Linked DNA regions of Homo sapiens: region 1 is linked to region 2. Evidence: fine-mapped expression QTL. A gene starts in region 2. The other region holds a variant in brackets. All regions are shown on one strand. Distances are between the middles of the regions.

Evidence for each region.
Region 1: its variant is fine-mapped to the expression of POLD2 in testis (GTEx, PIP 0.91).

Annotation. Positions count from the first base shown.
Region 1 is chr7:44,226,912-44,232,276 of GRCh38, reverse strand. CAMK2B (calcium/calmodulin dependent protein kinase II beta) reads left to right here. Exons shown (of 24, transcript NM_001220.5): 17 at 1,223-1,271; 18 at 2,776-2,889; 19 at 3,353-3,481. Among named protein-coding and RNA genes, the nearest start is that of YKT6, 29 kb to the right of the region's middle. The variant T/C (reference allele first, on the strand shown) is at 3,091.
Region 2 is chr7:44,120,761-44,126,125 of GRCh38, reverse strand. It overlaps POLD2 (DNA polymerase delta 2, accessory subunit), which reads left to right and starts at 2,578. Exons shown (of 11, transcript NM_006230.4): 1 at 2,578-2,615; 2 at 4,017-4,292. The coding sequence starts at 4,073. It also overlaps the pseudogene RNA5SP230. RefSeq lists enhancers at 1,913-1,972, 1,492-2,396 and a silencer at 2,183-2,892.

The DNA of each region.
Region 1 (5,365 bases), 110 kb before region 2:
AAACAGCGCCACTACACCCAACACGGCCCTCCAGCCCAGCTCCCACCTAGGCCTGGGCTCCTTACAGAGCCCCAGAGTGCCTCTGTGGGGACCCCCCACTTCCTTCTGGCCAGTGCCACCACCCAGCCCATCATCAGAAGACATCTTTCTCCATGGCAGGGACCAGGGGGTCCAAGGGGCACCCATGGTGCTAGGCACCAGGGCCTGGGCATTCTTCCCATCTGGCAGCTGGGGATGGGTGCCCCTGGGACCCGTGTGTGTCTGGGGTGGGTCATGCTCTCTGCAGGACTCCTAAACAACCTTCTGGGCTGTGGTGAACTCTGAGCCTGCACCTAAAGACCTGTAGTTCTGGTCTAGGGCCTCCAAGCAGTGTCCAGGCAGTGTCCAGACCAGGGGGCGGTCCCCCAGGGACCTTGTAAGATGTTTCCTCTGAGGAGCAGAGCAGGCCTCCTGGGGACCTGGGGGATGGTCTTTTGAAGGGCAGCAGCCCTGGAGCAGGGTGGGAGAGTCTGGGGCCACCTCTGCCCTCTAAGGCCACCTGAGAGGTGAGGCCGGGGCCTGACTGGACGTCCAGTCCCAGAGGGGCAGGTGCCCTGAGGGAATGTGGGCGACAGGAATGCTCTGCCTGGGGCCAGGCCAAGGTTCCTGGAGCCCTGTGCGGATCTGCAGAGCTCCTGGGAACGCCTCACCCTGTATTTTGGATGACACCGGCTGCTGCTTCATTGGAACCAGCCAGTCCCATTGTGTTTTACGTCTTGGAATTTCAAAAAGCCCATTTTCCTCTCTTGTTAAAGAGTCAGCTGAGCATACCAGTCTCTCTGCCAGGCTCATCTTGCTGGGAGAAGTGGAGCCCTCATGTGTTGGGGATGCAGGGTGGCCACAGCACTAGGGTGGCAGGGCCGGCCTCGGACTCCGTGCCAGCCTGTGCTGGCTGCCGTGAGAATGCACCCTGGTGAGGGGCGCCCTCCCAGGGACCAGCACAGAACTGGGTGTCTTCTCCGGTCACTGCCGCATGAGGTCCACAGAGCTGGGGCCCTGCAGCCGCCAGAGGGCATGTCCCCTGAGCCCCTGGCCTTTAAGCCCCGTGGAAGCAGCCGAGGCAGAGATCAGCTTCAGAGCCTGGGCTGGTCCTGACACAGGCCCAGCCCTGTCCACCTGCCCTCAGCCACGTCCCACCTATCCTTGGCCGCATCCTGACCCGCTGCCTCCCGTGTTTCCTCAGGAGTCTTCTGACAGTGCCAATACCACCATAGAGGATGAAGACGCTAAAGGTACCTGCACTTGAGTCCTTGCCCCCCCAGCGGCCTTGGCATTGCTGGGTTGCTCTTTGAGGTGGGTGGGACTTGGGCAGGGTCAACTCTCCTGCGACGCCTAGTTTATGCATGTGTTGAGGGGCTCAGGGACCCTGTAGCTGTAATCCTGCTCCAAGCCTGGGTGTCAGGCCTGCCCAGAGCGGAGAAGCATGGCAGAGATGACCGACAGCTGGGCAGTCTCGGTCACCGCATCCAAGTGAGGAAGCCACGGCTTTGCATGGAGGCAGGTTCTCCACACCAGGACCCTCACGGGGAAACAGGCCCATGGGTAGAATTTGTTCCAAGATGCTGTCCTTGTCTTAAAGCTCCTTAAGCTTGCGTTTCTGTCCAGCATGCACTTGCCAAGTGGCCGGGCAGCTGGGTGAGTGTTTCCGTGTTTGCCTTTGCTTAGCCAGGAGTGTCCTGCTGCGGTGGGTTTCTGCACCACAGATTCCAGGGCCCCCTCCCTTGCTCACCCAGGCCAATGTCTTGTGTGTTCCCCAAGAGGCCCCCAGGGCACCAGGCACTGGGGCATGCTCCATGGATTCTGCCGCCTCCAGACCACCCACATGGGGCCTCCTGACCCTCATCGCTCACACGGTCACCTAATAAGCCTTATGCTGTTCTCAGGGCTACCCTGGTGCCCAAAAAGGGTCAGCCACTCTGCCAGTTTAGGGGAGAAAACTTCTCACCTGTCCAAAGCATAGCCTTGCTCCTGCCCGGCCTACCCAGCTATGACACTGTCCCTGAGCAGAGATGAGCACAGGACTTTGGGCCCTGGATGCCGGAGAGTGGGTGTTTGTGTGATTCCCCTGCAGTCTGGAACAGGCCCCAAAGGCAACAGCATGAAGGCTGTCCAGAGGTTCTCCATCACCCTCAGCCGAGTGGGGTGCTGAGCAGTGAGGGAGGGGACCTGGGAGGGGGGCCCAGCCTGGATCCTGCAGGGGAGAAGAGAAGACAGCCAGAAGCCAGCAGCTGTGGCTCAGATCTGAGCCCGAGCAGCCTCTCGAGGTGGAGGCAGACACCCCCCACCCCACCCCGTGCAGAAAGAAGCCTTGCCAGCCTGCCCTGAGGCTGGTACAGAGTCCAGGCAGGCTCAGTGGCCATCATGCCCCTACGATGACTGTCACTCCCTCTCCGTGCGCCTGGCCTCTGCTGGCTCTGGCCAGGGGTGGTCACAGCACTAGGGTGGCAGGGTGGCCTCTGACTCTGCGCCAGCCTGCACTGGCCTGTGCTGCCCTGGCCTCTGCTGGCTCTGGCTCTGGCACCGGTCCCGTGTTGGCTCCTTCAGCCTTCACATACCTGCTGCGGCCACCACAGGCCCAGGACCCCCACAGGTGGCCACCCCACCTCCACCCCAGGAGCCCCAGGTATCCAGCTGTCACCCCCTCCCTCCCTCCTGGCCTCCCCCTGTCCTTCTCCAGTTGCCTTCTTTTCCTGCGGGCGCACCACCCACCTGCCTGCCTCACCTGTTCCGCCTCAGCCCCCAGGGTCCCCGACATCCTGAGCTCAGTGAGGAGGGGCTCGGGAGCCCCAGAAGCCGAGGGGCCCCTGCCCTGCCCATCTCCGGCTCCCTTTAGCCCCCTGCCAGCCCCATGTAAGTAGCCTGGGTCCTGCTGCTGTGGGGGTCATGTTGGAGGGCTGGCAACCCCCTAGAGGGGCCACTCCAGAGCCGAGGGCAGGCTGAGCGTGGACCCTGGCTCCAGCCTCATCACCCCACAATCCCTCACTGGGGCTTTCCAGGGTGGCCCCAGCCCATCGAGCCCCACCTCTTTGTGAGGAGGGCCCTGGACCACTT[T/C]CCTGCTCAAGGCCACTGGGCAGGATGGGAGGCCCTGGAGGCTCGGGCCTCAATTCCAGTCTTCAGGGTCGGTGCAGGCCTCACTCCACCTCAGCTTGCGGGCGGGGGGGCTCCCTGCTATTGAGGCAGGCTCTGATTCAGGGCCTGATCCCAGGGCCCAAGGGGTCTAGAACACGGGACCCCTCCCACTGGCCTCCTCCGCCTTGCCGCCGCCTCGTGTGTCTGTCTGCCTCATGTTCACGTCTCATCTGTTCCACCCCAGCCCCCAGGATCTCTGACATCCTGAACTCTGTGAGAAGGGGTTCAGGAACCCCAGAAGCCGAGGGCCCCCTCTCAGCGGGGCCCCCGCCCTGCCTGTCTCCGGCTCTCCTAGGCCCCCTGTCCTCCCCGTGTAAGTAGTGGCCCCCAGGCCTGCCGCCTCTGCTGCCGGACAGCTCCCTGCGAATGGCCGGCGCTCAGCAGCTTCCCACCTGCATGCACGGCCCAGCTACCCTGCCCCGGCGCCGCAGCCTGGAGTCCTGCCCTGGCGGGGCTTCCTGTGGGCTCCCATGCTAACCAGCAGGGCAGCTCCTGGCTTCTCCCTAAGGGGCCCAGACCCCTCCACGGCTCCTGCTCCCACTGCCACTCCCCGCTCGCTGTCCAGCCCCAGGCCCCTCTCCAAAATGTCTGTCCCAGCCCTGGGCAGCCCTGGCCCCTCCGAGGCCCCCCATGCCCCTAGGCCCTCTCTGCTGATCACTGTCCCAGCCCCACAGACTTCACACCCACCCAGGGGCCCTGCCCATGGTGCCCAGGAGCTGCACTCAGGGCCACCCTGGTTCCTGATGTGGCCCCAACCCCTGAGCACCCTCCCTCAGTCTAGGAGGCTGAGGAAGGTGCCAAAACTGGAACCCCGACCAGGGTCTCTGGAGCTCACCAACAAGGGGATAGTACGGAGAATCATAAGCCTGGCCTCTGCTGACCTGGGCTGTCCTCATGGGGCCAGGCCAGGCCTCCTCTGTAACGCCCGTGACTCCCTCCTCTCCCTGTAACCCCGTCCAGCGTTCCTCAAGGGCCACTTACCTGACAGCTTCTTGCTGGCCAGCAGCCTCTCCCTGGAGGGTGCCCTCTGCCCCCAGCAGCTTCAGCCCACGCCACCCGACAGCCAGAGCATCTGCCCTTCACTCCTGCAGCCTCCTCTCCACGCACCACGCTGTCCGCAGCAGCACCCTCTGTCCCCCTGTCTCCCTCCGTCCCCCCATATCCCCCTCGGTCAGCCTACAACCTCTCCACGTCCCCCTAAGTCCACGCTCTATCCCTACATCCCCCTCTGTCCCCCAAATTCCCCTCTTTCCCTCATTTCCATTTTCCTCCCCAAACTCTGCTCTGCCCCTCACATTCTCCCTCTGTCCCCCACACCCTCCTCTGTCCCCCAGACTCTCCCTCTGTCCCCCACACCCTCCTCTGTCCCCCATATACCCCTCTGTCCCCCACACCCACCTTGGTCCCTTCACGCCCTTTTCTGTCCCCCACACCCCCTCTGTTCCCTACACTCTCCCTCTGTCCTCCAGACCCTCCTCTGTCCCCCACACTCCCTCTGTCCCCCACACCCCCTGTCCCCCACACTCTCCCTCTGCCCCCCAGACCCTCCTCTGTCCCCTACACTCCCTCTGTCCCCCATATCCCCCTCTGTCCCCCACACCCTCCTCTGTCCTCCACCCCCTGCCCCCCATACCCCCTTCTGTCCCCCACACTTCCTCTGTCTTCCACACCCCCTCCTGTCCCCCACACCCCCTCTGTCCCCCAGACTCTCCCTCTGTCCCCCACACTCCGTCTGTCCCCCACACCTCCTGTCTTCCACACCCCCTTCTGTCCCCCACACCCCCTCTGTCCCCCATACTCTCCTCTGTCCCCCACCTCCCCCTCTGTTCCCCACACCGCCTTCTGTCCCCCACACCCCCTCTGTCTTCCACTTCCCCTCTGTCCCCCACATCCCCCTCTGTCCCCTGCACCCTCCTCTGTCCCCTGCACCCTCCTCTGTCCCCTGCACCTCTCTCTGTCCCCCACATCCCCCTCTGTCCTCCACACTCCCTCTGTCCCCCACATCCACCTTGGTCCCCTCACGCACCCCCATCCCCCATGACCCCTTCTGTCCCCCACACCCCCTCTGTCTTCCACACCCCCCTCTGTCCCCCACACCCACCTTGGTCCCCTCATGCCCCCCATCCCCTACACCCCCACTTTGTCCCCCCACATGCCCCTCTGTCCCCCACGTTCCCTTCTGTCTCCCACGTCTCCT
Region 2 (5,365 bases):
ATCACCTGAGGAGTTGGAGACCAGCCTGGCTAATATGGTGGAACCCCATCTCTACGAAAAATACAAAAATTAGCCAGGTGTGGTGGCACATGCCTGTAATCCCAGCTACTTGGGAGGCTGAGGCAAGAGAATCACCTGAACCCAGGAGGCGGAGGTTGCAGTGAGCCGAGATTGTGCCACCGCACTCCAGCCTGGGTGACAGAGTGATACCCTGTCTCAAAAAAAAAAGCCGAATAAACGAATAAAGATCTCATCTATGGCCGTACCACCCTGAATGTGTCCAATCTCAGAAGCTAAGCAGAGTTGGGCCTGGTTAGTACTTGGAGGGGAGAAATAACGGTCTATGCTAAAGGAAAATTCAGGTGCAATTAAAGTAAAATTAATTATATAAAAGAGAATACATTAAAAGCTAGTATTATTGTAACTTTGGTTTGTAATTCCACCAAGTGGAATTTGTTCCTGAAATGCTAGAATGGTTCAACATAAAAATCAATAAATGTAATAGACCACATTAACAGAAAAAAAACCCACACGGTCATCTCAATTGATGTCAAAAAAGTATTTGACAAAATTCAACACTCTTTTGAAAGAAGAAAAAGCTCAACAAACTAAGAATAGGAGGAAACTACCTCAAATAATAAAATCCATAGGCCAAATCCCCAAACTCACAGCTAGCAACATATTTAATGCTAAAGACTGAAAGCTTCCCCTTTAAGATCCGGAATAAGACAAAGATGCCCACTTTCACCACTTCTACTCAACATAGTATGGGAAGTTCTAGCCAGAGTAATCAGGTAAGAAAAAAGAAATAAAAAGCATCTGAATTGGAAAGGAAAAAGTAAAATTATTTGTTTGCCCAATACATGTACAATGTTTCAGGTGAAGGCTCAGAACAGTACAACCTTACCAGCAAGAGTCCTGCTGTCTCTGTGTGAATCCCAGCTATTACTCACTAGCTACATGATCTCTCTTGCCCTCCCTGCCTCAATTTCCTCATGTGTAAAGTGGGAGAAAAATAATAGTTCATGCTTCAAAGGTTTTTTGTTTGTTTGCTTGCTTTGAGACAGCGTCTGGCTCTGTCGCTCAGGCTGAAGTGCAGTGGTGCAATCTTAGGTCACTGCAACCTCAGCCTCCTGGGCTTAAGCGATCCTCCCACCTCGGCCTCCCAAAGTGTTGGGATACAGGCGTGAACCACTGTGTCTGACCCAAAGGATTATTTGAGGAGCAGATGAATTAATGTGTCATAACCTCAAAGCAGTTGCAAAGGCGTTTAATAATTAAAATATCACATTTTAAATTAAAATATAAGGCTGGGCGTGGTGGCTCATGCCTGTAATCCCAGCACTTTGGGAGGCTGAGGTGGGAGGATCACTTGAGCCCAGGAGTTCCACACTAGCCTGGGCACCATTGGGAGACCCTGTCTCTACACACACACGCACACACACACACACACACACAAACTTAAAGTAGCCAGGCGTGGTGCTGCGCGCCTGTTGTCCCAGCTACTCGGGAGGCTGAGGCGGGAGAATCACTGGAGCCTGGGAGTTCGAGGCTGCAGTGAGCCGAGATCGCACCACTGCACTCCAGCCTGGGCCACAGAGCAAGACGCTGCCTCAAACAAACAAACAAAAACAAAAATTAAAATATTAAGTAATAATTAACGAGTGTTAATATCCACTCGTTGTGGAGACAAGACCTGGACTTAGGAAACAGGCCCAGGGAAGTAGCAGAACAGTAGCGCTAGAGGACGCCTGGGAGAATCAGCGCGCGGCGGGAAGAGCCCGGGAAGCTTAGTGGGGAAGCGTCTCTTGATGGGGTGAGGAATTCTATAAATTAGTGGAGATGGAAAAAAAAAAAAAAAAGTATTCCCAAAGTGGGAGACAGCACTCAGAAAGACGTGGTGGTAAGAACGAGTATGAGTAACGGGGACAACGAGGACACTGGAGATTGGGGAGTGTTGGGCTGGAAGCTGGTGTGCAGCTGTGGGCAAGCTAGGGAGGACCCCGAAACCGCCAATGCGTTTCCCGGACGCAGACGCTGGCAGGACGGGAGGAACCCCGAGACCCCGCGCCATCCCTTCAGGAAGAGTTACTTCTCCCCGGCCAAGTTAGTGGGCCTTGGGCCTTCTTTCTGTTGGGATCCTCCTCGCGTGTCGCCATCGCTACAAGTGGGCAGCTCTGCGGGGAAAGCTGGGACGCTGGGGGCTTCACCAAGGAGGCTGGCGGCCGACCACTGGGAGGTCTGGCGGGGTGACGACCACTGGGAGGTTTGGGCAGGGCCTGACGGGGTGACGCGGTCAGCCCACTGGAGGCCGACACCCCCCGTCAGCCCAACCCCTGCACGCGCGGCCGCCAACCAAAGACCCGCGGCGCCGGCCTGCGAGCCCCCGCCCCGCGTTGCCCAGGAAACCGAGGGTGTGGCTCCGCGTTCTCTGGGCGTCCCAGGGACTGGGCGCACAGTGGTCGGCGGGATGAGGCGCCTGGTGACGGACGGGGCGAGGAGGGCAGCGATTGGTGAGATTAGGCGATGGGCGGGGAAGCCGCGCGGGGATTAGCGAGTTGCGGCGATGGGCGGGGCAGGCGCGCGGGGATTGGCGGGATGCGGCGCGCCGCGCGGTGAGTGGGGTCCAGGGAAACGGGGTCAGCTGGGGGTGGCAGTTCCAGGCCGCGAGGCCGGGCTCCTGGGTCGGTGGGCTGGTGTCTTGGCGGACGTCCCGCAGCTGCCGCGTGGATCCGAGCCGGGGCACCCGCCGTGACTGGGACAGCCCCCAGGGCGCTCTCGGCCCCATCCCGAGTAGCGCGGCCTGGCTGCTGCCGCCATCAAGCACGTTCGAGCCAAAAGCTCCTAACGAGTCACTCGTTAGACACGTGTGCGGAGCCTGTGTCCCAGGCCAGTGCTGTCCCGTGGAGATAGATTGCAAGCCGCTAGGGAATTTTTTAACTTTCTAGTAGGTGTACGAAAAAAGTAAAACGAAACAAATCAATTGGAGTAAATCCATAAATATATTCAAACTATTATTTCAATTGTATGTGAAAAAATTATTGGGATATTCTTTGTACTATTCTTAGAAATCCATTGTGTGTCCAACCCAAACATCACAGTTGGACTCACCACATCTCCTGTACTTCGTAGCCCTAGGTGGCTAGTGGCATAAGACACAAAAATCTCAGCTCTCCTGGAGCTTATGGTCTAGTTGGAGCAGGCAGACAATACATTTAAAATATACAGTTTGTTAGAAGGTAAATGTTGTAAACAACAATAACAGTTGAAGTACTGGGGAGAGTTGCAGTTGTAAATCAGATGGGCAGGGCACAAGGTAACATTTGAGTAAAGATGTAAGAACTTGAAGGAGATGGGCAAGTGAGCTCTATAAGTATACGGGAGAGGGGCAAGCAAGAGTTCAGAGGCCCCTTGCTGTGGGGAGGGATCCAAGGTGGAGGAGTGGGAACCAGGAGGGGAGAGGACCAGTGGAGCAGATCTCATAGGCAGTTGTAAGGACTTGGGGCCTTATTCAATGAAATGAGGACACTTTGGAGAGTTTTGAACAGAGCAGTGACTGATTTATGTTTTGGTTTTGGTTTAGTTCTATTATTATTTAATAATAGGCTTATTATTTCACAGAAGTTTTATTTAATAAGGCAGACCTCTTGTCTGGAAATGAGACAGGTGCCGGAGAGCTGGATGGAGGCAGATCGGGAATTCCATTTGGGGCAAACTGAACTTGATTGAGACCCTGGTAGTTGTCCAGATGGAACAGGACACCTGAGTCTAGGGTTCGGGAAGAACTCCAGATGGGACAAACACTCCTAGCTTTCCTTTTCTCTTTTTGGATGACCGCTACAGGGTGAGACATCGGTATCCAGGCACGATAAATTTCCAAGTGGACACAATGTCTGGTGTCAACTACAGCTGTTCTCCTTCTTTTCCCAGTATCCTTTGGGTGCAGTGAGACACCAGGAGAGCTGCTGCTTTGGGGGATGGACAGGGGCAGCAGGAATGCCTTTGTGTTTTCGCAGTGAACCTCCTTGGCCTGGGCGAAGCTGTGTGGACCAAGCAAGTCAGGAGTGTGGCCATGTTTTCTGAGCAGGCTGCCCAGAGGGCCCACACTCTACTGTCCCCACCATCAGCCAACAATGCCACCTTTGCCCGGGTGCCAGTGGCAACCTACACCAACTCCTCACAACCCTTCCGGCTAGGAGAGCGCAGCTTTAGCCGGCAGTATGCCCACATTTATGCCACCCGCCTCATCCAAATGAGACCCTTCCTGGAGAACCGGGCCCAGCAGCACTGGGGTAAGTGAGAGTTTGGGAAGGTGCTTCCCCCACAGCATCCCTGAACTTAGAAGTGTTCTGCAAGAGAATGGGAACAGTTTATCTAATTGATCCCACTTCCTGTTACCTTGGGAAAATTAACCTCTTTTTCCCTCAGTTTCTTCTTAAGATAGTAACAAGGATTAAATTAAGTAATTTGTGGGTTTGGAGTTAGTTTTAGTTCAGAGGCTGGTTGGAGATGAGGACTTAGTTCTGGCGGTGATGGCGATTACTTCACTGGCAGAGGAAAATGGTTTTCCTATCTTCAGTGCAGATTATTCAGGTATTTGCCTGTGCTGTAGCCAGAGAGCCCCTCAGTGTGGCAAGCCTGGCGCCAGGCACCAGGAGCCAAGACTGGTGAGGATGCACTCTCTGGTCTCGAGGGGACCCCCTCTGTTCACTCATGTCTGTTTGCCTCTCCTCCTGGCCCCCATATTTGCTGGCCATGAATTTTCCTGTCCCTTGGGCCCTCTGTCTTTCCTAATAAAGTGGCCTGCCCAACACAACCCTTGTTCTTTGCCCCCATTTCTTCCCTGGTGATCTCTCCTGCAGTTGGATTACTCTTGGTGGTGAAGCAGGGACCCCCATCTCCCCCTTTGAGTTTATTTGAGTTTTAGGTGCTGCTGCATTCCCCCATTCCTACCACTTACATAAGAGTGGCTTTCCAGGTAATTTTCAAATCCATCTCCTATTATATTTTTAAACTGAGGATTTAGTAGGTGAGACCAGGTCTTACTCATTTTTACTGTCCTTGGCACCAGGCAAAATGGATCTCAGCCCTAGTTGCACATTGGAATCCCCTGGGGAGCTTTGAGAAGCCCATCTCATCCCATGCCAAGCCAAGATCAATTCTCGTTATAGGCAGGCAGGAGAACCCTGGGCCTAGAAATCTAGCTAGAACCTCAAATTCATTAGGGATATGTATTAGTCCATTTTCACATTGCTATAAAAAACTACCTGAGATAGGGTAATTTATAAAGAAAAGAGGTTTAATTGACTCACAGTTCCTCATGGCTGGGGAGGCCTCAGGAAACTTAACAATCATGGCAGAAGGT